Linked DNA regions of Homo sapiens. The protein of the gene in region 2 purifies or fractionates together with the protein of the main gene of each other region. This does not show direct contact. Each region holds a gene or a part of one and is shown on either strand. Other genes may lie near its edges. The genes, in order: ARHGEF17 and RASL12.

Region 1 (11,820 bases), on a different chromosome or scaffold from region 2:
TGGGATCTGGATCCCCTTCCCAGGGCTGGTCTAAGGAACATTAGTCCAGCCTCATGAGTGACTACATGTGACTCTGGGTGCTCAGGCTGTCTCTCCTGTCCTCCAGCCACACCAGGCCAGCCCTCCTCTTCCATGAGATACAGAGACCTGAGCAGACAGATTCCAGGTTCTATCAATTAGTGGTTAGGTGACCTTGAGGAAGGCATCTAACCTCTCTGAACCTCAGTTTCCTCATCTGAAAAGGAGGGTAATAATGGTATCAACCTCCCAGGACCATTGTGAGGATTCGAGATGATCCATGCTCCTGGCTTGCAGCAAACACTAAGTGGAAGCTGGGTTTATTGTTTCGTGGCATTCAAGACCTAGAGTTGGTTCTCACCTGAATTCTCCAGATTTAATTCAACAAATATTTACTGAGCATCTACTGTGTGTCACGCACTGTGGCAGGCCTGGGGATGGAACAAAGAACAAAATCCCACGCTCACGGAGCTCCCAATCTAGGCGCCCCTGCCTTTTCCTCTTTCCCCATCCACCTGGGCCTGCACCAGGCTCCTCTACCCCTCCTTGCCTTGGTTTGAGCTGTTCTTTTTTTTTTTTTGAGACAGAGTCTCCCTCTGTCACCCAGGATGGGGTGCTGTGTAACCTCGGCTCACTGCAACCTTGGCCTCCTGGGTTAAAGCAATTCTCCGCCTCAGCCTCCCAAGTCGCTATGACCACAGGTGCACGCCACCACGCCTGGCTAACTTTTGTATTTTTTGTAGAGATGGGGTTTCTCCATGTTGGCCAGGCTGGCGTTCCCTCTTAACATCAAACCCAAGCCCCACTTTCCCCCACACCAGTGGCTAACCATAGTCATTCCCTTTACAGCAGCAGTTCTCTACCTTGGCTGGTGAAGCTAGATCATGGTGTCAGAAGCCGGGGTGGTGGTTACCCTTGGAGGGCAGACCAGAAGGAGGTCTAAGGGGAGCTTCTGGGGTGATGAGATTTTCTGTTCCTTGACCTGGGTGTGTTCACTTTATGAATACCCATCACGCTGGGTCCTTTTTTATGTCCTTTTTTGTATAAATGTTATACTTCAACTAAAGGTTTCTGAAAAACATATAGACACCTGGGTCCCACCCTCAAAGTTCAGATTTAATTGGCTTGGAATTGGCCTAGGCCCTCATGATCATAATGTGCATCCCAGGCTGAGAACCACTGCTTCAGAGGAGGTAATCCTTCCAGGAGCCTCCCCTGGGCCGGGAGCCTGGGGTCTGATGCTCATTCCAGGGCCTCCCTGCCCACAGCTGATGGGGTCCGGGCTGTCCACAGGCTGGCCAGTGCCCTGGAATGTGGGCCTCTAAGTAACAGTGGGCTGGGCCAAGCCCATTCTTACTGAGGCACTTGAGTCGGGGAAGTGGTGAGGATCTGGTCTTGGGTATCTTGTGCTAAAACTGAAGTCTGCCCAGGGTCCTCCGAGTGGAGGAGGCGGAGGCCCTGAGGCAGCAGAAGCTGGAAAGCAGTGGAACAGCAACTGACTGGCAGTGTGGGAGGCACTGGCGACTCAAGTGGAGAGGCCAGATGTCCTGAGATGCAGCTCTGATGTCTGGGCCACAGTGCCCTGTGACAGCTCCTTGCTGCCAGCTCACATCTTCACTAATAAGCACCCTTCTAGTTCACAAGCAAAATGAATCTCTTTCTTGCAATCCAAAGACCTGTGCACGCCAAGCAGCAGTCCTGTTCGGGAAGGGATCATCAGCCTCATTTCACACGTGAGGAAATGGAGGCTCAGAGGGGATACAACTTGCCCAAAGGCACATAGCTAGTTAGCGGCAAAGTCAAGATCTCAAACAAGGTCTGTCCAGCTTCAAAGCCTGTGTTTCTTCTAATGCTTTGTTTCGTTATATATTCCACATGAATGATGCCTCCTACTCCATAATATATCTGTGCTTATTAATAGAATCCCTTCCTCCCCAGATAGCCCCAGTAAAATGATGCTGCACGGAGACGGTCCATGCCCGTCCTGTGGTGTTGAGGACCCAGCAGACCCCTGAGAGGTGTGCTGCCAGTTTGCAGAGCATGAGCTTGCATGCCCCTTCAGGGGCTGACTCAAAAGTCAGTCATTTAGGCTGGAAACGTTCGTGCGTGTAGCAGAGCTGAGGCACGACATGCCTTCTAGTGATGGCCACCTCTAGTTCTGCAGGTGCACTCTGGTCTGGAGGGCTCTCTGTCCTTGCACAGAATAGTCCCATGTTGCTGGGCCTGTGCGTTCTTGTGTCTGATTTAATGACAGACCTCTTCAGACCAGAAATCAGACAGACTTGGATTCTATCCCTGCTCCAAACACTTCAGAGGGTTGGAGCAGGGCCTTGGCCTTCATCAGGGTTCTCCAGCTGAGGCTTTGCTGGAGAACATTGTTTCCTGGAGGAGCCGTAGACAGGCTCAACAGGGGTCCTGGCTCTTTACCTGGAGCATGTCAGCTTCAGATTCCCAAGCTCCATCCAGGCCCACTGACTCAGAAGCTCTCAATTAATACGTAAATAAGTTACGAATCATGTTTCTGCATTTACATGTCATCTGCAAGGGATTCTACCATGTAACCCTGGTTACAAAGCACTGAACTGGTACAACCCCTTTATTTTCCTGATGAGGAAACTGCAGCCCAGCCACCTGCCCAGGTAACACAGCAAATCGTGGCAACCTCGCCGTCCAGCACTCTTCTGGGTCTCCAAGGCCTCCCTTCTTCCCAAGTGTGTGGACGTCGGAAGGCCCATGTGGCCAGGGAGACTGAGCCCTGAGGTTGCTGACAGGAGGCCACTGTGGCCACCAATGCAGTCATCTGGTGTTTCTATTTATTGACTCTTTAAACTTCATCATCCAAAGAGAGTTAATACATGACTGTTTGGTAGCAAGAGAAACATAATCTAAGACCGCAATGACCCACCCACCCCAAACAAAACCAAAACCAAACAGAACAAAACAAACCCCATCTGAAACCAAACCTTTGGAGTTTTAGCTGAAGAAGCGAGGGGGCTGAGGGTCAGAGTGGCTCTCTGTGGTCCAGGGGGTCAGGTAGAGGCTGCTCTCAAGTGGGAGCCTTCTCTGTTGAAAAGGCTACATTCAGCCCCTCAGCTTTGGGGGGTCCTTCCTGAAGGGGCTTCCCTTGGCAGAAGGGGTGTGGAGACGGATTCAGTGGTCAGAGGGGCTCCTAGGTCTGCCCTCCAAGGTGACCATATGTGCCAGTGCATGAGACACAGGGAAGCAGGGCCAAGGACTGGGGGCGACTGTGAGGAGATCATGGGCCCATTTCTCCTACCTGAGAGAAAGCCCTGTCCAAGGCCCCATCAGTGTTCCCAAATTAGGGAACCACTAAAGGCACCACCAACAAACTGGGAAATGACAAAGCCTGACAGGTCCCCAGATGGCAATCACTGCCCCCTAATAGTCAGCATCTTGATCTAGAGGACTGAGGGCAGCCCCATCAGGCTGGGGCCCTGGAAAGTTTATGTCAACGGGCAATGTTTAGGGCCTTGGACATGCAGTGTGCGTACGTGTGTGTCTGTATGAATGGAATGGGGCTCAGGGGCGCATGGGTCCCTCCAGGAAGGCTTGGTTAGAGTCCCAGGGTGGTCCCCAGGGCAGGAATAGGTTTCTTTTCCTCATGTCATTTCCTCAAATCACCCCCACCCCAGGTGACCAGGTCACTGCATAAATAAGTGCTTGGGAAGGTACACATCTAAAAAGAAACATAAATACTGTACATGGGGAATTCCCCAGCCTTCCTGCTGCCCTCCAGAAAACCCTCCAAATATTGCACATGGCCCTCCCCAGCCCCGTGGGGTCCAGACCCAGCTGTGTCTTTGGTAGAAGCTCCAGGGTCAGAGGTCCTGGTCAGCCCACATGTCCCCCACCCGATCATGACTGGAAGCACCGGGGCAGCCAGAGGGTCGGGAGAAGCCATGGCCTGGCTGGCCAGTGGGTGTTCCATCAGGAATGCTTCCGCGAAGACAAGGCAGAGCCCACGCAGGCACATGTGTGCCCCTGGCTGGATACTCCTGGTCAAAGTCTGCGTGTGGGCTAGGGAGAGGCAAGCAGGCTGAAGGCAGGTGGGCGGGCGAGTCCTGGGCCACGGCAGACAGGGTCACACCCTCCACAGGAGGAGGTGGTTTGTGCTGTCGTCTCGACCCACAGTCTCACTGCTGCTGCCGCCCCCACTGCTGAGTCGGAAGTCCTCATAGCCATCACCTCCACTGATAACCAGCATTTTAGGCCTGGCAGGGGCGGGGCCTCGGTGCCAAGGGGAGTCCCGGTGCTCCAGTGATGGCAGCTTCTCGGGGCCTGGGGGCAGAGGGGAGGATCTGTCAGCTTGGGGGCGAATGGAGGCTTCACTGTCCCATCGGGGCCTGAATTCCCACACCCCAGAAGATAGGAAGGAAGATGTGCACACTTCCTATGGGGGAATCCCACTTTCTGTTAGCTAGGAACTTATTTAGAAAGAAATGCCCACTTCTTGGCAGCCAGACTTCTTATGTCCCATCTGTAATCTCTAGTCAGGAGTCACATAATTTCCCAAGGTGACGCCACTTCTGATTTTTTTCTTTTTACAATGTAAGTGCCCTGTAAGATGCCACTTTCTATCTCTCTTGATTACTGCACGCAACGTCCTTGCATTAAATAAGCCTCCTACTTCCAACAGCCCTTTCCCAGGTAGCTTAAGTCTTCTGTGAACCCAGACAACTCCTGACCCGAGGCTTTATTGCTTCCTGATTTCCACAGCCACTTCCTCTTGGGAATATCATTTCTTGTCCTGCCAAAGCAAGACTTTTCTGGTTGTGGCCTCCTGATGTACCTCATTTCCTGCTGTTTCACTTTTTTTTTTGAGACGGAATTTTGCTCTTGTTGCCTGGGCTGGAGTGCAATGGCACATACTCTTGGCTCACTGCAACCTCCGCCTCCCTGGTTCAAGTGATTCTCCTGCTTCAGCCTCCCGAGTAGCTGGGATTACAGGCGCCCGCCACCACACCCAGCTAGTTTTTGTATTTTTAGTAGAGATGGGTTTTCACCATGTTGGCCAGGCTGGTCTCGAACTCCTGACCTCAGGTGATCCACCCCCTTCAACCTCTCAAAGTGCTGGGATTACAGGTGTCAGCCACCACGCCCGGCCATATTTTTATTTTTATTTTTTTGAGACAGGGTATCACTCTGTCACCCAGGCTGGGGTGCAGTGGTGCAATCTCTGCTGACTGCAGCCTCGACTTCCCTGGGCTCAAGTGAGTCTCCCACCTCAGCTCAGCCTCCTGAGCAGCTGGAACCACAGGTGTGTGCCACCACACATGGCTAATTTTTGTATTTTTTGTAGAGATGGTGTCTCACCATGTTGCCCAGGCTGGGTCCTGAACTCCTGGGCTCAAGCGATCCTCCCACCTCATCCTCCCAAACTGCTGGGATTACAGGTGTGAGCCACCGCGCCTGGCACCCGGCTGTTTCACTTTCTAATTATCAGTCCATTTTCTGTGCTAGTGCCATTCTATGTTGTTTTCTGTTGCTATTTCTATTTCCTGCTCTGTGCATCACTTCCTGATTCCACTTCCTGCCCTATATATCATTTCTAGTCCTGTGCTATTTCCTGGTGCATATAGGAAATATATACAACAGGACATATTTTCTATATACATATTCTATTTGTGACATATTCTACCTCTTAGGTTATAGTTCCCTCCCTGTCTCTCATGACATTTCTCTGGATAGAACTTTATATACACACAACACATGCAGGTGCGCACACACACACACACACACACAACTATCCTAGATTTCATTTGGACACTTCCGTGGTGTATTTCCTGTCACATATGCCACCTCCAGCTCTATGTGACACTTTTCCTCCCTCTTGAAAGCTCTTCTGGCAGGATAGTGGGGAGTCCTAAACCAAATGTCCATGATCCCTAGCTTGGGGTATGATGCACTGACCCACCTGTGTCTGGGGGAGGTGGTGGGGTTGGGCAGAGCAGGTTGAAGCCATCTGGCAGCTGGACTGCAGCCAAGAAGCGGACGTGGCCGGTGTGTCCCTGGCCGAGGCCTGTGGGACTGAGTGGTGCCCGTGGGCAGCTGACAGTACCGGGCGAAGTGGGCATGGTGAGGACGACACCAGCACTGGTGCCCACCCACAGCAGCTCCTCACACACCAGCAGCGCTGTGATTCGCAGACAGGCAGCCTTGTGCTGCCGGATGATGGCATCCGAGCCTGGGGTGGGAGACAGACCACAGCTGGGGCTGAATTCTGGCCCTGGCTCAGCCGCCTCTACGATCGGGCAGAAAGGCTCCAAGGAGGGTGCTGTGGTAGTTTGAGGTCAGTACCTGCCAGCATCCTGTGCACGGGAGGAGTGACGTCTACTTCTGCCAGCTGCTCAAAGGTGTCTGGATGGTAGAGACACACGTGGGCACTACCTTTCAATGTCACCCACACACCCAGGCTGGAGTCCACCATGCAAGCCACGCAGCGGCTTGAATCCTGACCCACGTAAAACATGTGCTGGGGAAGGCGGGGGAGAAGATGGGTCATTGGCAGGCCTGCCTCCCTTGGCCCACCCTAGCCTGGAGCTTCACCAGTGTCCATCCCTCACAACTCACACTAGCGTTGGTCCTTGGTCTGATTAACCTTTCGAAGCTTGGTTTCACCAGCACCTCCCAACTTAGTTCTCAGGAATTACAATGGAGGTGCTTTTTCCCCATTAAACTTGAGTGATTTAAGGATCAGAGAACTTCAATGCTTAAAGGGTTCTAAAATCAGTCACTGGCCTCCCCCTGGACAGGTGGGGAAGCTGAAGCCTAGAAGGGAAAGGTCACACAGCAAGTCAGTCACAGAGCTGGGGCCTGAACCCAGGGCTTTGGACTCCTGCCCAGCCAACAATGGAATAAGTGAGGGAAATTAAGGGAACCCGTTGCCCCTGGATACTTCTGACATGTGTGCAAGTGACATGTGCAGCAATAAATGCCAGAGTCTAATGCTAATGGATGTTGACATCAGAAAGGACTCTTGTCCTATCCCCAAAGGACCCTAAAACCTGAGTTGAGAGATAGGGTGGGCAGGAGGATGAATAAGATTCCTAATGTATATGGGACACTTACTGTATTCCTCATCAGCTACAGAAGAAATGAGGATCGAAGGAGGACAGGGACTGGCCAGCGTCACTCTGTGGTCAGAGGAAGGCCCTAGCCCTCTGCTGGATGCTGCTTATGCCCCTACCATGGTCTCCATCTCCCTGTCACACGGACCTAGCTCATCCCATGGCACCAATTCCATTCCCCCACCCCCTGCTACCTCCAGCTGCAGCGTGTCAGGGCTCAGGACAAGGACTCGGTTCTGGCAGCCACACCACAGCCGCCCACCCACAGATACCATCTTGGTGATGGGGCTCCCCTGGGTGCCCAAGGTCACTGATTTGAAGTTCTGGGGGTCCCAGAAATGGCCTGGAGTGGGGTAAAGAAAACAGGAAATTCACTCCAGTTCTAAATTTGAGCCTCGGTCTCCCCTGAAATGAGATGTTAACATTCCCCTTTTATAAGCAAAGAAACCAAGGCCCACAGAGGGCCTGGGAGTTGCCCAAAGCCACATCTCCAGGAGAGAGCCCCAACACCAGTAAGGGGACAGGGGCAGGGTGTGGGGGAGGGCAGATACTCACCTGCTTCCCTTTGGTAGACCACAAGCTCTCCATTGGCCAGAGACACAAACACCTGGTTATTCAGATACCTGGGTAGGGAAAAGAGGAAGCAGTAAGGGAGTTCAGGCAGCCAAAGTGGGTCACCCAGGACCAGGGGAACCACAGATAGAATGGGTATGGCTCCCGAGAGGCCACCTCTTCCCACCCCTTGTTCTCCAGGTGGGGGTTGCCTGAGGCTAAGAAAAGGGGGTGACTTGCCCGAGCTCACACAGTGTGTAAGAGGCACAGCTAGCCTAGGGCCAGGCCTCTGGCTTCCAGCCTCCACACAGAGGAGGGACAGTAGAGCAGGGGGACCAGATGAACAGAAGGAGGCCTGCACGTGTGGCTGAGAAGAGTCTAGATAGGAAGGGCCACCCTGGGGCCTTACAAGATGCAGGTCACAGAGGCCGCATGCTGGAGCTTCATGCTGTTCCTGCGGTCACGGATGCTGTCGGAGGACTGGTACACGTGGACACTGTGGATCGGGGTATGCACCTGGGACAAATGCTTGGGGCACACCAGCCCCTGGAGTCATCCCTCCACCTCTTTGCCCCTAGCACCACGTCTTCAATGCTGGGTGCCTGCCCAAGGTACTGAGGTCCCACAGCCTCCCTGGGATTGTCAGACCCACTGACATCCCTGGTCAGCAGTACCCCTGAGGTGTGACCCAAAGCCCTCCTGCCTTGGCTCCAGGGGACCACATGATTTCCAGAGCAGGGAGCTCAGAGTTCTGGCACTGTGTCCCTAGTCCCTCCCCTGTCCCTACCAGCCATCCTCAGTGCCCAGCCACACGGAGCTCTGGTAGGCCTCAGGGTCGACACTCAGCAGGTCCTCAAGGCTGCCCCGGGTGAAGGAGCCGTGGCTGGAGCGGCGAAGGGCTCTCCCATCCATTGGGCTGGTGCCGCAGGGACCACCAGGCCCAAAGGAGCCAGACAGTGGCAGGAAGCCTGGCTCCTGCTCCTCCTCTGAGCTGGTGGTCTCTGCCGTGGCCTCCTTGGAACTCGGGGTCTCCTCATCTGAGGGAGACAAAGGTCTCTGTCTCCATTTCCCTCTGCCAGGCCTGGGACCTGATATCTTTCTAGGCCATGCATCCCTCCTGGCCATGCCCCTCCGGAAGGCCTCTCAAAGCTGTTCTTCCCCGGCCTGCTCCGGTCTGCTGCCCTGCTGCCCTGCTCACCGACAGCTCAGCACTACAGAATCCTTGATCTTGCCTGGCCCCTCAGACCCAGTGGCCACACCGTGGGTCCCCACTCCACCAGCACCCCATCTTCCTTAGCTGAGTGCTCCAGGGTCTTCATGATCCCGCCTGACTGTCCCACTGTCCTCTGGATCCTTGGTGTCACATCCCCTGCCCTCATTGCTCTGTGTGCTAACATCCTGAGGTCTGACGCCATGCCTTTGCCCTACACTGGTCCCTCCTCTCCCCCTCCTCTGGGCAGTCCACCCTGCCTGCCAAGGCCAAGTTGGAGGAGATGGCCAAAGCTCACTGCCAAAGCTGGAGGAGATGGTGGACCGGCTGGCCTGGCTCTGCAGCGTCCCCGAGGGGCTGGGCGAAGACTCATCGTCAGAGTCACTGTCAAAGGGCACCAGCTCTGGGCGGGGGTCACCCTCGCCGAGGCCCGGCGTCATCTCCAAGCCCGAGCCTGCAATGGAGATGTGAAGGCAGGGCTGCGGCCCCGGCTCCGCGAGCGTCGCGGCTTCCTCGTCTGCAGCGGCCTCGACGTCCAGCTCCGGCCCGGCGGGCTCCGGTGCCGTCTCTGGAGGACTCCTCAGCGACGGAGGAGGCTCCCTGCGAGAAGACGGAGTGAGGATGACAGCAGCTACGAGCCAGACGGGGCCCCGGTGGTGGACACGCCCACCGACCCCGCCCACACTCGCCGGGCCCCGCCCACAACCACGCCGGGGCGGCCTGAGAGTGTGCTGGGACAGGGGTTGGTTCTCCCAGGCCCGCGGTGCCGCCCACCCCGCCGCCCAGGCCTCACCGGTGGCAGCGAGGCTGCAGCCCGGGCACCGCCCCGATGCAGAGGATGCGGGCGGAACAGACGGCGATGCAGGCCTCCACGTCCGGCTCGGCGCGCAGGCTCAGCAGGCACACCTGGCCCACGTAGCCGTCGCTGTTGCAGACCCATACCTCAGGCGAGGGCTCCGGGCAGCTGTTCAGGGTGGGAGCCGCACAGGAGAACTGCAGGAGGCGCCAATGGACAGGAGAAGGTGAATGGAGGAACTGCTGCCAGCATTCCCCACTCCTGGGAAACCCCGGCAGAATGGAGGGAGGCAGGCCTGCATGGGTGTGTGTGTGTGGATGCCCTATACACCCTTCTACACACGCGTACACATACACGCGGCACAGGACCCTTTTTTTTTTTTTTGGATTGGTTCTTGCTTTGTCTCCCAGGCTGGGGTGCAGTGGTGGGTTCATGGCTCACTGCAGCTTTGACCTCCAGGGCTCAAGCAATCCTCCCACCTCAGCCTCCTAAGTAACTGGGACCACAGGGGCGCGCCACTAAACGTGGATAATTTTTGAATTTTTTGTAGAGATAGGGTCTTGCCTAGCCTGGTCTTGAACTTTTAGGTTCATGTGATCCTCCTAACTTGGCCCCACAAAGTACTGGAATTACAGACGTAAGCCACCGCACCTTGCCCATGTGACCCTCTACACATCAAATGCACTCATGCCTATGGGATACAGGCATCATGCCTACATGTACACACACATATCCCCAGATATAATCATGGATACATGCATAGAAAAAATGTGATGCTGGTAACCTCTGTACATATGTATGCAGCCTCATACAAGCACATAAATGAAGCTACTTCCCATCATTCATATAACCTTTGTTCACATGCACAGATACAGATATGCACGAAGCATACCCATATACATGTGTACATGTAATACATATGCAGCACCCACACACATGTACAGAGAGCTGAATTCTCCAAGACATAAGGAGCAATAGCAATGTTCACGGCATATACACAATGTCGTACACAAAAATTCATGAACACCTGCTGGCTTTGAAAACATGTACCCAAGTGACCCAGATGCAGACATACCTGCATGCCACTGCGGGTTTTCATGATGGGGATGGCCTTCAGGAACTCAGGGTCTAGACAGCTTTTGCTGGATGCTGTAGTGGAGATGGACAGACAGACGGACCCTGCTTAGCATAGCATCCATCTCACCCTGGTCCTGCCCCTGCCCCATTCCCCTTCCTCCCCTGCCCCTCAGGGTCTCTTTAGGGGAAGGCCTGATCCCAGCCACATTAGAATAAGGCAGTTGCTCCTGGCCTCAATCTTTTCCCATGTGTATTGTCTTGGGGTTAGACCCAGAGGTCTCTGTGGATCTTCTAAGCCATGAACCCTGATCAATCGCTTTCCCTGATCCAGCCCTGCTCAGAGTGTGTGTAGGGAGGGTATGGCGAGGGTCTTGGCTATCGGTGCCCACTATGGGGCAGGTCCAGCAGACAGTGAGACCCTATCCATGGAATCCCCTCCCTGCCAGGGAGGCCACAGCTATTATTCAGTCTGATGTTTCACTGCAGAAGCCCCCCTCCCCACCAGGTGGAGCCGGAGCACAGGGCACTGCGGTTCTGGCTCCTGAAGTCACAGACAGCTGTGAGATGCCTCTGGCCTCCTGCCTGGAAGCTCTAGGAGGAGAGGGCCAACATGTGCCTTGGCTTACCCAGCTTCCTCTTGGCCTCATCGAAGGCCTGTTCAAAACCAAGGCGGGCGTCAGGGTGAGGGAACTCAAAAATGTAGGAGTCGGTGCCCTCGGGCCGAGTGGCGCACAGCTCCAGCTTGGTTGGCGGGAAGGAAAGCGCGTAGCACAGCGCCTGCTTCTCCGACAGGTCCCGGTGCATGGCAGCTGAGAGGTCCCGCAGTGCATCGTCCAGGCTCTGTGGGGAAGAGGGCCCAGGCCTCAGGCCCCAGCATCTCACCAGAGCCTGCACCTGCCCTTAATGTGTGGGGACCTGCCTCTCTCCTTAGACAGCAAGTGAGACTGTCTCCTCCCTCAGACCTGGATTCCTTTGATATATGGGGGATGGGGCCTCTGTCACCCTCTGATGGGGATGCAGCTATGTCTCCACCCTCAGACCTGGAACATGTTACTTCCCCCATACGCAGGGAGGCTGCG
Region 2 (11,820 bases):
TGCTCAATAAATGGTAGCTGATGTCACCCAGGCCAGAATTTTGGGATGAGGGTAAGGGTAAGAAGCTACTCCAAATCCCCTATGCTAGACCCTGCCTGTGGCTGGAGGAAGCAGGCCATTCCCAGCCCCATCTCTTCTCTACCCCATCGTGGGTCCCTGGGGCAGGAAACAGGCCACCCACAGCTCTGGCTTGTGGGATCAGCTCTAGAGAGAAGCAGTCGTTTGGACTGAAGGGTTAGACCACAGAGGTGACTCCAGAAGCCTGTGGTTGGCAGAGTTCTCAGGGCTCCTGGGGTTTGTGTTTGTGAAAATTCATTATTCAAGCCCTCACAATGACAAAGTTGCAGATTCAAGCTCATCATAAAAGCAAATAATAAAACCAGGGCAGAGGCAGGAGAGGGCAGGGGGGACAACATTTCATGGTGAGGAGGGCAAAAGGAGAGAGGGGGCAACACCTATTCTGCCTTGGTCCTACACCACCTCCCGTGAAGGGAGGATAGAATATCCGGAACTTGGGAAGGTCCTGGAGGCTTCTGACCTGAAAGCCATGGGAATCGAGGCGGGAAGAAAAAGAAGACTGGCCTTGCATAGGTCGGATGTCTACAAGAGGGAAGAGATGGGGGGGTCCCTGAGATCTTGGGGCCAAGACTCCACTGGCTGGATCTTCCTGACCTACTGCTGAGCTGTCCCGCTGCCCATTCCCGAGGATAATGGCACAGCCACTAGATGAGAGGAGGCACTCGAGTGGGCCATGGTGGGAAAAGTTTCTGAGCCCAAGGCTGACCTGGCAGGAGCAGGGGCTGAGAGTGGGCTAGCTTCCCAGAGTGCCACTCCATGGTGAGGCACGCGGTCTCAGAGAGAGTGAGTAACTGGGACAAAAAAGAGTCAGAGGCATCGGATCTATTCCCCACCCAGGGCTGGGTGCCGTGGTGCCAGTAAGCTCACCGCTTCCTGAGGAACCCTTTTGGAAAGAACACTTGCTATTATTTGCTTTTATGATGAGCTTGAATCTGCAACTTTGTCATTGTGGGGGCTTGAATAATGAATTTTCACAAACACAAACCCCATGTGTGCGTGCATGTGTGTGAGTGGGTGACAGAGGCACAGAACATTGTCCTTTTTCTTATTTTGTTGCATCCTAGGGAAAATTTTATCAGTGGCTTGGGAAGCATCAACCTAACCGACATTTTACCCTTTTAACAGTGAGACAGTCGTGGGAGACAATGGCCAATGCTCAGCTAAAAGTTAGACTTCCTGTGCTTCCCAGAATCCTAATCTACTAAACTTGGGACTTGATCGAAGAATGAAATAGGAATACATTGTCCTGAGTTGTTTTTAGGGAACGGGTGGGATCAGCTTCATTTGAGCATGTATGCTTTGTTATTTGCTCCCAAACCATTTTAGACAATCCCTTTGGCAAAGATTGGGGTCAAAAGAGTGATCTGTGCTTTTTTCCCTGTACTGAAAACTGGCCTACTCACAATCCAGTCTTCTGACCCCTAAGAGGGTCTGCAATTCCTCAAAGACTACCTTCAGCAGCTTTCAGGTCACATGACTTCCCTCATTCTCTGAGACACAATTTGCCTAGGTCTGAGGGCTTGGCCACCTTTGAAGGCCTCTCACCATAGTCCCCTTTCACGGTCCCACACCTCTCTTTTTCCCACGGCCCATCTGACCCGTTCTAAACAAAGGGTCCCTTCCTTGCTAACACCAGTCAATGTGCCCTTGGGGCCTAGGGCAGCAGGACTGACCAACCGTGAACAGGGAGGGATGAGTGGCTGGTGGAAGGGGCTATCCCTTGCAGGTAGACTGGCCACAGAGGACAAAGGTCAGTGCTGGAGAAATCCAGTGGCATTACTCATCAAGTTCAGGCATCACAGTGTCAAATGCTTCAGGGCCAGGCGGGCAACTTGAATGTGTGGAAAGGGTGGAGGTAAACCACGGGGAGTGGTGAGGCCTGGGGTCGGCTGGAGAGAGCGTGCCCCACCTCAAAGCATTCCAATTCTAGGTCTTTTAAGACACTATGCCAGCCAAGCAAAATATGGCTGCAGTATTCTTCAGTAATGCATCCTCTGGCCCAGTCTCTGACCTCCGATTCGAGTCCAACCCTTTCTAAGAGAACCTGCCCTCAGCCCAGCCAACTGTGGGAGTGAGAGTGGGAGGCTGCGTCTGGGTGAGGTGAGAGCCGATTGGACCAGAGCAGACACCTGACCAAGGAGCCCATCAGAGCCTCTCTCCTTAGAATTGGAATTGGGCACTAGACCAGTCAGCTGCTGGGAGTGAGATCGGAAGGTCAGATAGATTCATGCAAGAAGGGTGAGTCCAAGAGAATCCACAGAGACCCAAGAGCGCGGAAGGAGTGGCCACTCTTCTGACTTTCAGGGTGCAGTTGCTGTGTGACCCAGAAGCGTTTCCCTTCAAGTCCTTGGCTGCCTGGAAGACCAACATCTACCATACCCTTACAACATAATCCCTGTGGTCGGGCACGGTGGCTCACGCCTGTAATCCCACACTTTGGGAGGCTGAGGCAGGCGGATCATGAGTTCAGGAGTTCAAGACCAGCCTGGCCAAAAAGGCGAAACCCCATCTCTACTAAAAACACAAAAATTAGCCTGGCATGGTGGCAGGAACCTGTAATCCCAGCTACTGGGGAGGCTGAGGCAGGAGAATCACTTGAACCCAGGAGGTGGAGGTTGCAGTGAGCCGAGATGGTGCCATTGCACTCCAGCCTGGGTGACACAGTGAGACTCTGTCTCAGAAAACAAACACACACACAAACAAACATATAATCCCTTCTACCACAATTCAAGGGGATGACTGTTCTTAGCAGCCCACTAATCCCTCAAGATGCCACCTGACCTTACAAGTGAAGAAAGCGAGCTCTGGAGATAACGGCCAAGCAGGCTGTGCTCACCTGTACTGAGCCATGTCCAGCTTGTTGCCCAGCAGCAGGGCAGGGATGCTGCGCTGTGTCTCCTTCGCGTGCAAGGCAAGCAGCTCCAGGTAGCTGCTGCTGCTATCAAAGCTCTGGCGGCTGTCGACGCTGTACACCACCAGGAAGGCATGGGCCCAGTTCAGGTAGCGCTCGCAGTTCCTGGGGGTGTCCTGGGGTGAAGGTGAGAAGCCCCGCCGGGGGGCAGAGGAGGTTGGGGTAAAGGCCTTCACCTGAGCCGCCCAATCCCACCTCCCCACTCCCCGGTCTTTGTATATTGTTTCTCAGCAGAGCCCTTTCAAAGGGGCACTTGAGTGTGGATTTGGCTTGGTGTGAAAGGAGACATTGTCTCATGAACCTCCCTCCCACCACCCAGCCAGAGACTTGGAGACCTTGGCCCCTTGGGCCCAGAGCCAAAGACTCTGGCATGGTCCCTACAGAGACCTGGCTGTCCCTGGGCACCACTGGTTTTGGGTTGAGTTCATGCTGCCCCTTTGGCTTCTGAGAGTAACTGGCATCCAGCCTTGGCAGGGGGTGGTGAGGACATGGGGGGAGACTTGTGTGTGGGAGAGACCTGGGCCGAGGGGCTCTCACCAGGAGCATCTGTGTAAACAGGTGTGCACCTGTCTCCTCGTGTGCACAGGCACAGAGCCCCACAGCACAGGATCTCAGAGCAGATGCCAGCAACCATCATGTCTCTCCAGGCCCTGTCCCATCCTTCTCATTTGGCAAAGGAAGGATTCAGACCCAGAGAGGTCAAGTGCCTCATTCAGGGTTACACAGCAAAGTTGAGCTTAAAAGGCATCTAAATGCCTATCTGAGGTCCCGCACTCTGGGCCAGGACTTCTCAGGAGGCTATACTGACTCACAGCAGTGCATAGGTAATGGAGGTAATGTTACCAGGTCTGCAGTGTCCATGACCCTCAGGTGGACAGGCTGGTGGTCCACAGTCTCCTCGGAGCTGTAGGTGTCCTCTACAACACAGATGGTTAGCCAGGTCAGACACAGTGCCTTGGGTGTAAGTTTGAGCTTCCCTCTGTGCTAGACCCCTGTGTGGCCTGGGGGGACCTTAGCAGCTGCTCTGGGGCTGGGACCACTGGAAAGTCCTTGGTTCTCACCCACATGGAGGCTACAGGCAGAACCTCCCACCAAGGAGATGCTGCTCCACCTGCAGGGCTCAGCATCAGTGGTCACTCACAGACCACACCTCGGGGGTGGGTCTGTGTTCTGGATCCACACACAAAACCAGCAGGATAGAGTCGAGTGTGTGGCCCCTAGACCCTGTTAGCAGCACAGGCTGGCTCAGGAGCAACACTGCTAGCCCCTCTATCCCAGAACCCCAGGCTTTCCCACTCTCTTCCCCCTCAACCAACCTCCTGTCCCCAGTGGGAGAAGAGACAAGGGAAAAGAGAAGTACACAATACAATGGAAGGAATGGCAGTCAGACCCCTTTTAGAAGTTCCGAGAAGGTTTTACAAATAATCCTTGTCAACATGACAGCAGGGGAGTCTAGTGTAGTCAGAAGTTTTCAGTTGGAGAATGTGGTATTAAACCCAATGTCAGCTGCTTTTTAGCTTTGTGACTTGGCCAAATCACTTCAGCTCTCTGAGGCTGTTTCCTCATTTTAAAATGGGAACACTGTGATAACATTGCTAACAGTTTCCAAGCCTTTCCTTTGTCCCAGGCGCTGTGCTAAGTGCTTGACATTAGCTCATTTAACGGTCCCATCTCCCAGGGCTCTGTAAGAACTGGATGGGCCCCCCAGGCATGGGGCCTGGCTCACCATACATGCCTGGTGAGGGCAGTGGGAATGATGGTGTTCCAAAGTTAATAGGGCAGGATCACATTCCCAGGTGATTTTTTTTTTAACTTTTGAAATAACTTTAGACTGACATAGAAGTTGTAAAATAGTAGAGTTCCTGTGTACTCTTCACCCAGCTTCCCCCAGTGTCATCACCTTACATAACCATAGCCCAATGAGCAAAAAGAAATTTACATTGATACCATACTATGAACCAAACTAGTGACCTTATTTGAATTTCTCGAGTTGTTACTTTTTTTATATATATGGTTCTCATGATCTCAAATCTGAGAAAGCAACAAGTGGCCAGGCATGCAGAGGACCTTGCGGCCATGTTGGCAGTCATTCTCTGCACCCCCAATCTGTGCCTGTGTCATTGGCCCACATGTGTGAGTGCACTTGGTTATCACCTTTCCCTAGGTGTCCCCTGCCCCTAGTGACCCTAAAGAAGTCACCTTTTGGCAGAACTGGGGTGGTCTCTGCCTTCCTGGCAGCATCCACTGTGAGAGGGCACGCCCCCAACCCTGGCTGAATTTATAGTCAAACACTTCTTTCTGAGGGCCACTGGCAGCCAAGCTGGCCTGGACACACTCCAGGTCCACTAGCATCCAGCATGAATCACAGACAGCTTCTTGTCCCCAGCCTGCTTTGGGGACTTGGATAAATAGCTGCTCTTATGCAAAGACAAAAAAAATCTAATGGAAACTATGTTCCAAATGTTTAACTATATTTGGTCCAAGAAGAGCTGCCCCTAGATGCTTACATCGCTTTCAGATCTGTCTTTATTTTCCAGTCAAAGATGTCAGATGCACCCCTTTTAGGAGTTCCCCTCAATGGGCGCAGTGTCCTGCCCAGCCCAGTGAAAGGCGCTAGCTCAACCTTGGTCTCCTGCCCACAGCATGACAGCCTTTCAAGGTTGCTGTTAGCTCCATTGTAGAGAGATGGCAAGGTGAGGCCCAGAGAAGGGATCTCACCCAAGGCCACACAGCACCTAATCAGCAGAAGGAACTTGAACTCAGGGCTTCCAGGCTGGGCTGTGTTCACAATGGGACCCCCTCACCCCGTGACTGCTCAGTGAATCAGCCCACCCTCCAGCTCTGTCTGGGCAGAGTACAAGGGAAGACCAGAATCGCCCAGTCTGGTGGGGATGTGGAACATGCCTGCATGAGCTGGAAGAAGCCTTGGAGCTCGTACTGTCCAGCCTCCCTTTATAGAAGAAGTGACAGGCCTCAGGGGCTGGGGCAGGAGTGAGGGGCTCCTTTCCCAGTCACAGTAATGTCCAGACTTCCTATCATCAAGTCCCTGCCTCAGAGTACTCTGGTGTCCTTAAATATATGGGTTTCCTAACACCTGGTTGTAATTAATATCCTGTGGACTTTTGGGTAGAGAGAAGAGTCATTTCCCAAAGTTTTGAATTTGCCGATGTTTTCCTCTCATTTATAGTAATAATTTTTAAATGGCACCACAGAAGCTCACGTCAGAGTGTATACAGGGTGCTGCCTCAGAAATGGTGCCTATGTTGGGCCGGGCGTGGTGGCTCACACCTGTAATCCCAGCACTTTGGGAGGCCAAGGTGGGCGGATCACAAGGTCAGGAGTTCTAGACCATCCTGCTGAACACGGTGAAACCCTGTCTCTACTAAAAATACAAAAAAATTAGCCGGGCATGGTGGCAGGCACCTGTAGTACCAGCTACTCGGGTGGCAGGCACCTGTAGTCCCAGCTACTCGGGAGGCTGAGGCAGGAGAATGGTGTGAACCCGGGAGGTGGAGCTTGCAGTGAGCCGAGATTGCGCCACTGCACTCCAGCCTGGGTGACCAAAAAAAAAAAAAAAAAGAAATGGTGCCTATGTCCTCGCTGGAGGAGGAGGAGAGCAAGAGGAGTGAGAAGCTGACATTCTTCCCTGGCTGAGCCAGATGAGGCACCCTCAGCCCTTCTGGGAGAGGAGAATATTCTCCTGGAGACGCCTGCCCACTCCTGCGGGTCTCAGCACAGGCAAAGCCCTTCCACAGACACTGAATCTCTCAGCTACTACCAGCTCTAACAGCCACACCCCAGAAAACGGTGCAACTCTTACACAGCCAGAGCACAGGCTATTGGTCCCATCTTCCAGATGGGGAAACCACAGCTCAGAGGGCCCCATGCCACACAGACCTCTGACTCCAGGCCCTCTATGACATGAGGCTGCTCCTAGCGGAGAGCAACTGGAGCCATGCCTCGTCTTCCTTTGTGCCTGAGGGTCTCCATAATCTTAAGGCAAATCACTGAGCCCTCTCTTCCTCCATTTCTCCACCTATAAAATGAGGATCGTGATAGGAGCTCTTCTTTAAAGGGTAATCCTAAAACCAAAATTTACCACCCCCCCAGTTAAACCCTCATCTACACTGAAGCTAGTACTGTGCTACCTGCTGGAAATGGGAATGAATCTCCACCCTCAAGGCTCACCAAATGAGCTCAGGCTCTCAGAAGACCTAGGAAGGGCTTAGAGAGTTGTTTTACCAGCATTGCTGATGGCTAGCTCCCCAATGGAATGTGGAGACCTTTATCCACAGAAGGAAAGGTTCTCATCTGTCTCTGCTGCTGCTGGAACCAACAATGGGACAGTGGCCGGAATGTTTAGGCCCCTCCTAGCAGAACCTTCGAGGAGTGGCACTGGCCTCCCAGAGAGTCTGAGGGGAGAATGTCTGGTTGGCTCTCTGACTCGTGGGCTGTCAGTGTAGTGTGAGAGACCACAGACCAAGGGGACTGACCATTGTGGGGCTGCCCACTTCCCAGACAGTCTGCCCACGCATTCCACTACCAGGTCAGAACTCCAAAATTATTCAATCAGGAGGCTCAAACCACCACCCTAATAGGCTCATCCGGTGGCACCCTGTGACAGTATCGATTGGAAGGCAGGGAGGAAGACAGACTGGAGGTGAGATGCCAGGAAAAATACAAGATGCCCAGTTAAATCTGAATCTCAAAAAAAAAAAAGGAATAATTTTTGGTATAAGCATGACCCATGCAATATTTGAATTAGGCCGAATATGTCTTTTGAGTCCCTGCCCTTGGGAATTCCCCTTGTCCTTTCCCAGACACTGTGTCTGCTTGTGTGCCTTTCCTTCCTGTCCTCCCACCTCACCTCTGTCCTCAGTTTCTCCACCCCATCTCTATTCCATGCTCTGGCCTCTTCCAACACCTCGCCGGCCAGTGCACCATTGCATCCTGTGTCCTCCTCTCTCTGGAGCTGACCTCTGCTAATCAAAGGGCCTCCTCTGGGTGACCTTGGCCCAGAGTCTTCAGCTCCTTGGGCCTGTTTCCTCCACTGTAGCACTGAAGGGCTGTGCCAAGGCACCGGGGGTCAAGCAGAGCTTCGAGGAACAAATCTCTTAGGGACTGTCACCATGTCACCTGCCCTGCATCCCTGACTTACCCATGGGAACCCCTTTGCTCTCTCTGTTTGACACCCTGGGGTTCTGTTTAAAATCTGGAAGAAGGGATTCTGCTACCTAAGGAAAAGCTTTTTTAAACAAGGGGACTAAATAGCCCTGATGTCTCTGCCTGCTGCAACACTGGTGCTGGACTCCAGCCTGAACTAAGGGGCTGGGCACCACTAGGGTAAGGAGCTCTCCCCTCCAGGTGCGGCAGGAGCGCTGGATCAGGGGCCTGCTGCAGGGAGCGCAGGGGGTTTCCACTGTGTCACAAAGCCTTGGGCTTCTTTGGAGGGCTCTCAGGGGTCCCATGAATGCTTTAATTGATTTTTATGAATGGGGAAAATAATCCAAGACTGCAACACCCATTTTCTAAAGGCTAAGATCATCCAGACACCTTATGGCTCTCAGTGAACAGTTTACAATAGACAAATGTTATACATGTGAGCTTTAAGCAACATTTATACTAATAAAATCCTGCTTTGATTTGTTTTAGAAGGGAATCTAAGCTATTGTGTATGGGAATCCATTTGAGGAGGAAGGAAAAGCAAAAATGCATTGAGTGCCTACTGTGGGTCAAGTACTAGGCTGGATCTTTTACATGTGCTATTTCTTTAATCCTCACAGCAATTCTCTAACTATTTTTTAATGCCCATTTTACAGATGAGGAAACAGTAGCTCAGAGAGGTTAGCTGACTGGCTCAAGGTTGCCAATAAGGAGCAGAGCCAGGTAGGATTCAAACCCAGCTCTGACTGACACCGAAACGTTCCTTTTTCCAATATACCATGATGCAGCGATGAAAACAACAGTTGTTTTCTCATACGGTTAAAAAACTGGTTCAGAAGCCAGCACCACTAGAGAATTTCTCGAATGTCCTGCCCAGGTTTTCTGGAAGAGAACACTGAGTGACCATCTTGAAGAATAATACCTATTTGTTTTTGAGTTTTTTTTTTTTTTAGACAGAGTTTCCCTCTGTCGCCCAGGCTGGAGTGCAGTGGCACGACCTTGGCTCACTGCAATCTCCGCCTCCCGGGTTCAAGCAGTTCTCCTGCCTCAGCCTCCCTAGAAGCTGGGATTACAGGCACACACCACTATGCCCAGCTAATTTTTGTATTTTTAGAGACGGAGTTTCACCATGTTGGCCAGGCTGGTCATTAACTCCTGACCTCAGGTGATCCACCCACCTCAGCCTCCCAAAGTGCTGAGATTACAGGCATTAGCCACCGCACCCGGCCCAAGAATAATACCTGTTTGGATGTGGATGTCTTGCTATGTTTATTTTTATTTTTTAAAGTTTTTTCACACCTCATATTTTAGGGTAAATCAGCCTCTCTTAGTTCTGTGAATTAGGCCAACCCCCCAGTTGTCTGGGGTGGGCTGTGGAAGGGGTATTTCTGACACTTAAAACATTTTCCCCCATGGGCTGGGTCATCCTGGCGGCTTCTCCCTTCTGTCCCCAGACATGCAGTCCTGGTCAGTGCCCACCCACGGGGTGGGTCCCAGGAGAGCACTCCAGATGGGGCACAGGCAGCAGAAGGTACGGGGAGTAGTTTCTTACCCAAGTTGGGGTCATATTCACTGATAAACCTCTTGGTCAGAAACTTCACGGTCAGGGCTGCAAGAAGCAGAAAGAGGTTGGCTCCATCTCCGCGGCCATGTCTAGCTGCTGGCCCCTCGTTTAAGGGAGGCCTTATCTAACCTCTGTGATCCCCGGCTGACACCAAGCTCAGCTCTCCCAGAGAATGAAGCTAGGGAACTGAGGAATTGGTTTGAAAGGCTCAGAAGGAAACCAGAACTACGGGGAGCCAAGTGCCTCTAATTGCACCGTGGGAATTTTTTTTAATGGCAAGGAAAGCAATGAGTGGCAAGCCTAAGGGGTGTTTGGAAGGTATGAACTCAGGGGTCAGGACCCATGCAACCATTACCCTAGAGTCAGCCTGGTGAAACCTCAACTGAAGGGAGGTGTCGCCCACCCCGGACAAGTCACAGAGATTCTGAAGTGTGGGGCTATTTACTCCAGGCTTTAGCTACAAGCCAAAAACACAGGAAGAGCAGAGTTGATTGCAGTGGTTGATCTTTGGGAAGGGTATAAATCCCCAAGTGCCTGGGCTTTCCAGGTAAGGTCCAGGTGAGGTCTGTGTCCCGAAGAAACACACTCTGGTCCTGGTCTCCCACATCGCAAGTCTTGGCTTTCTCTGGGGCCTCTACACTCATCATGGATATCTCAGCAGAATGTAAAACTCAAGAATTAAGCTCTCTTTGGTTCAGAGTGTAGCCATATAAAGCAAAGACCAGCCAACTACTATACTGGACCCTCAAAAAGTAATGTTCGCTACTGCTTGTTTGGAAAGAAAGAAAAGAAAAGAGAAGAGAAGAGAAGAGTAGAGAAGAGAAGAGAAGAGAAGAGTAGAGAAGAGAGAGAATAAAAGAAAGAGAAGGAAAGAGAAAGAAAGAAGAAAGAGAGAGAAAGAAGAAAGAAAAAAAAGAAAGAAGAAGAGAGGGATGAAGGGAAGGAGGGAGGGAGGGAAAAGAGAAAGAGAAAAAGGAAGGAAGAAAAGAGAAAGAAACAAAGACAGAAAGATAGAAAGAAAGAAAGAAAAAGAAAAAAGAAAGAAAGAAAAGTAATGGGATGCCTGTAATTCCAGTGCTTTGGGATTGAGACCAGCCTGGGCAATGCAGTGACACTGTTATCTCTAAAAAAATTGAAAAATTAACCAGGCATGGTGGTATGCCTGTAGTCCTAGCTACTCAGGAGGCTGAGAGGGAAGATCACTTGAGCTCAGGAGTTTGAGGCTATAGTGAGTCATGATCGCGCCATTGTACTCCAGCCTGAGTGACAGAGACACTGTCTTAAAAAAAAAAAAGTGACATTGTGAATAAAATCCTTAAAATTCTTTCCTAGGATTCCTAACGGTGTCAGTTTGCAAACTAATACCCAGGGAATACATATTTTAAAATTTAAATTCTTTCTTTTATGTAGTCACTGGCTAAACGGTACCGGTTACAGAGCTACGGATAACAATCTGATTTTCAAAGGGCAAATCTTTCAAAGGAAGAGGGTAATCCCTTCTGTAGGAAAACCAGATTCAGAGTCCCCTCTCTGGGGGTGGGGCTGGCTTCAAAATCAGAGAGTAGGCCCCCAGTGAGTCTTACAGAACACTCTGGGGAGGAAACCCACAGCCAGCTGAGCTTGGGTTGGCCATCACTAACGGCTAAAACTGGAAAAACAGCCAGTGGAGGACCCCTTCTGCCCTCCCTCCTTCAGCCAGCCAGGAGTGGCATAGTTCAGTGTTGACACAAATTATCTCAATGGAAGCCCAAGATCTTGGCTCATCAAGGACAATCCCATGCACCTGGAACCATAACCCAATGTGTTTCCAGAAAGTTGAGAGGGGTCTGGCTTGAAACGAACACATTTGATAAGAATGCACAACTTGTCCCAGAATCCCAGGGAATGGGGGTGGGAGTGGGGGAGTGGACCTTCCCTGAGAAATCTCAACAGCTAGTGACTTCACCAGCTCCCTTCTACGGGGAGGGGGTGTGGAGGGGGAGGGGTTGGACGGGAAGTCTTCCCCCAAGCCTAATCAGGGAGTAGCAAGGCTGCGACTAAGCTCAAAGAGGCGCCTTGGGTAGGGGGATCAGTGCCCAACAGGTCCCTTTGAAGCCAGTCGCCA

Evidence for each region.
Region 1: the proteins of RASL12 (region 2) and ARHGEF17 purify together in Homo sapiens (affinity purification with mass spectrometry; 3 studies listed by BioGRID and IntAct, with this or other methods). This does not show direct contact.

Annotation. Positions count from the first base shown.
Region 1 is NC_000011.10:73,360,081-73,371,900, reverse strand, and holds the end of ARHGEF17 (rho guanine nucleotide exchange factor 17), read right to left. Parts: intron 11,582-11,820; coding exon 11,368-11,581; intron 10,814-11,367; coding exon 10,740-10,813; intron 9,862-10,739; coding exon 9,662-9,861; intron 9,469-9,661; coding exon 9,167-9,468; intron 8,696-9,166; coding exon 8,446-8,695; intron 8,155-8,445; coding exon 8,068-8,154; intron 7,730-8,067; coding exon 7,662-7,729; intron 7,450-7,661; coding exon 7,301-7,449; intron 6,512-7,300; coding exon 6,337-6,511; intron 6,224-6,336; coding exon 5,954-6,223; intron 4,318-5,953; coding exon 4,121-4,317; 3' UTR 2,513-4,120; downstream 1-2,512. UniProt on the Homo sapiens protein: Acts as a guanine nucleotide exchange factor (GEF) for RhoA GTPases.
Region 2 is NC_000015.10:65,055,513-65,067,332, forward strand, and holds part of RASL12 (ras-like protein family member 12), read right to left. Parts: intron 9,762-11,820; coding exon 9,705-9,761; intron 3,907-9,704; coding exon 3,833-3,906; intron 3,106-3,832; coding exon 2,915-3,105; intron 1-2,914.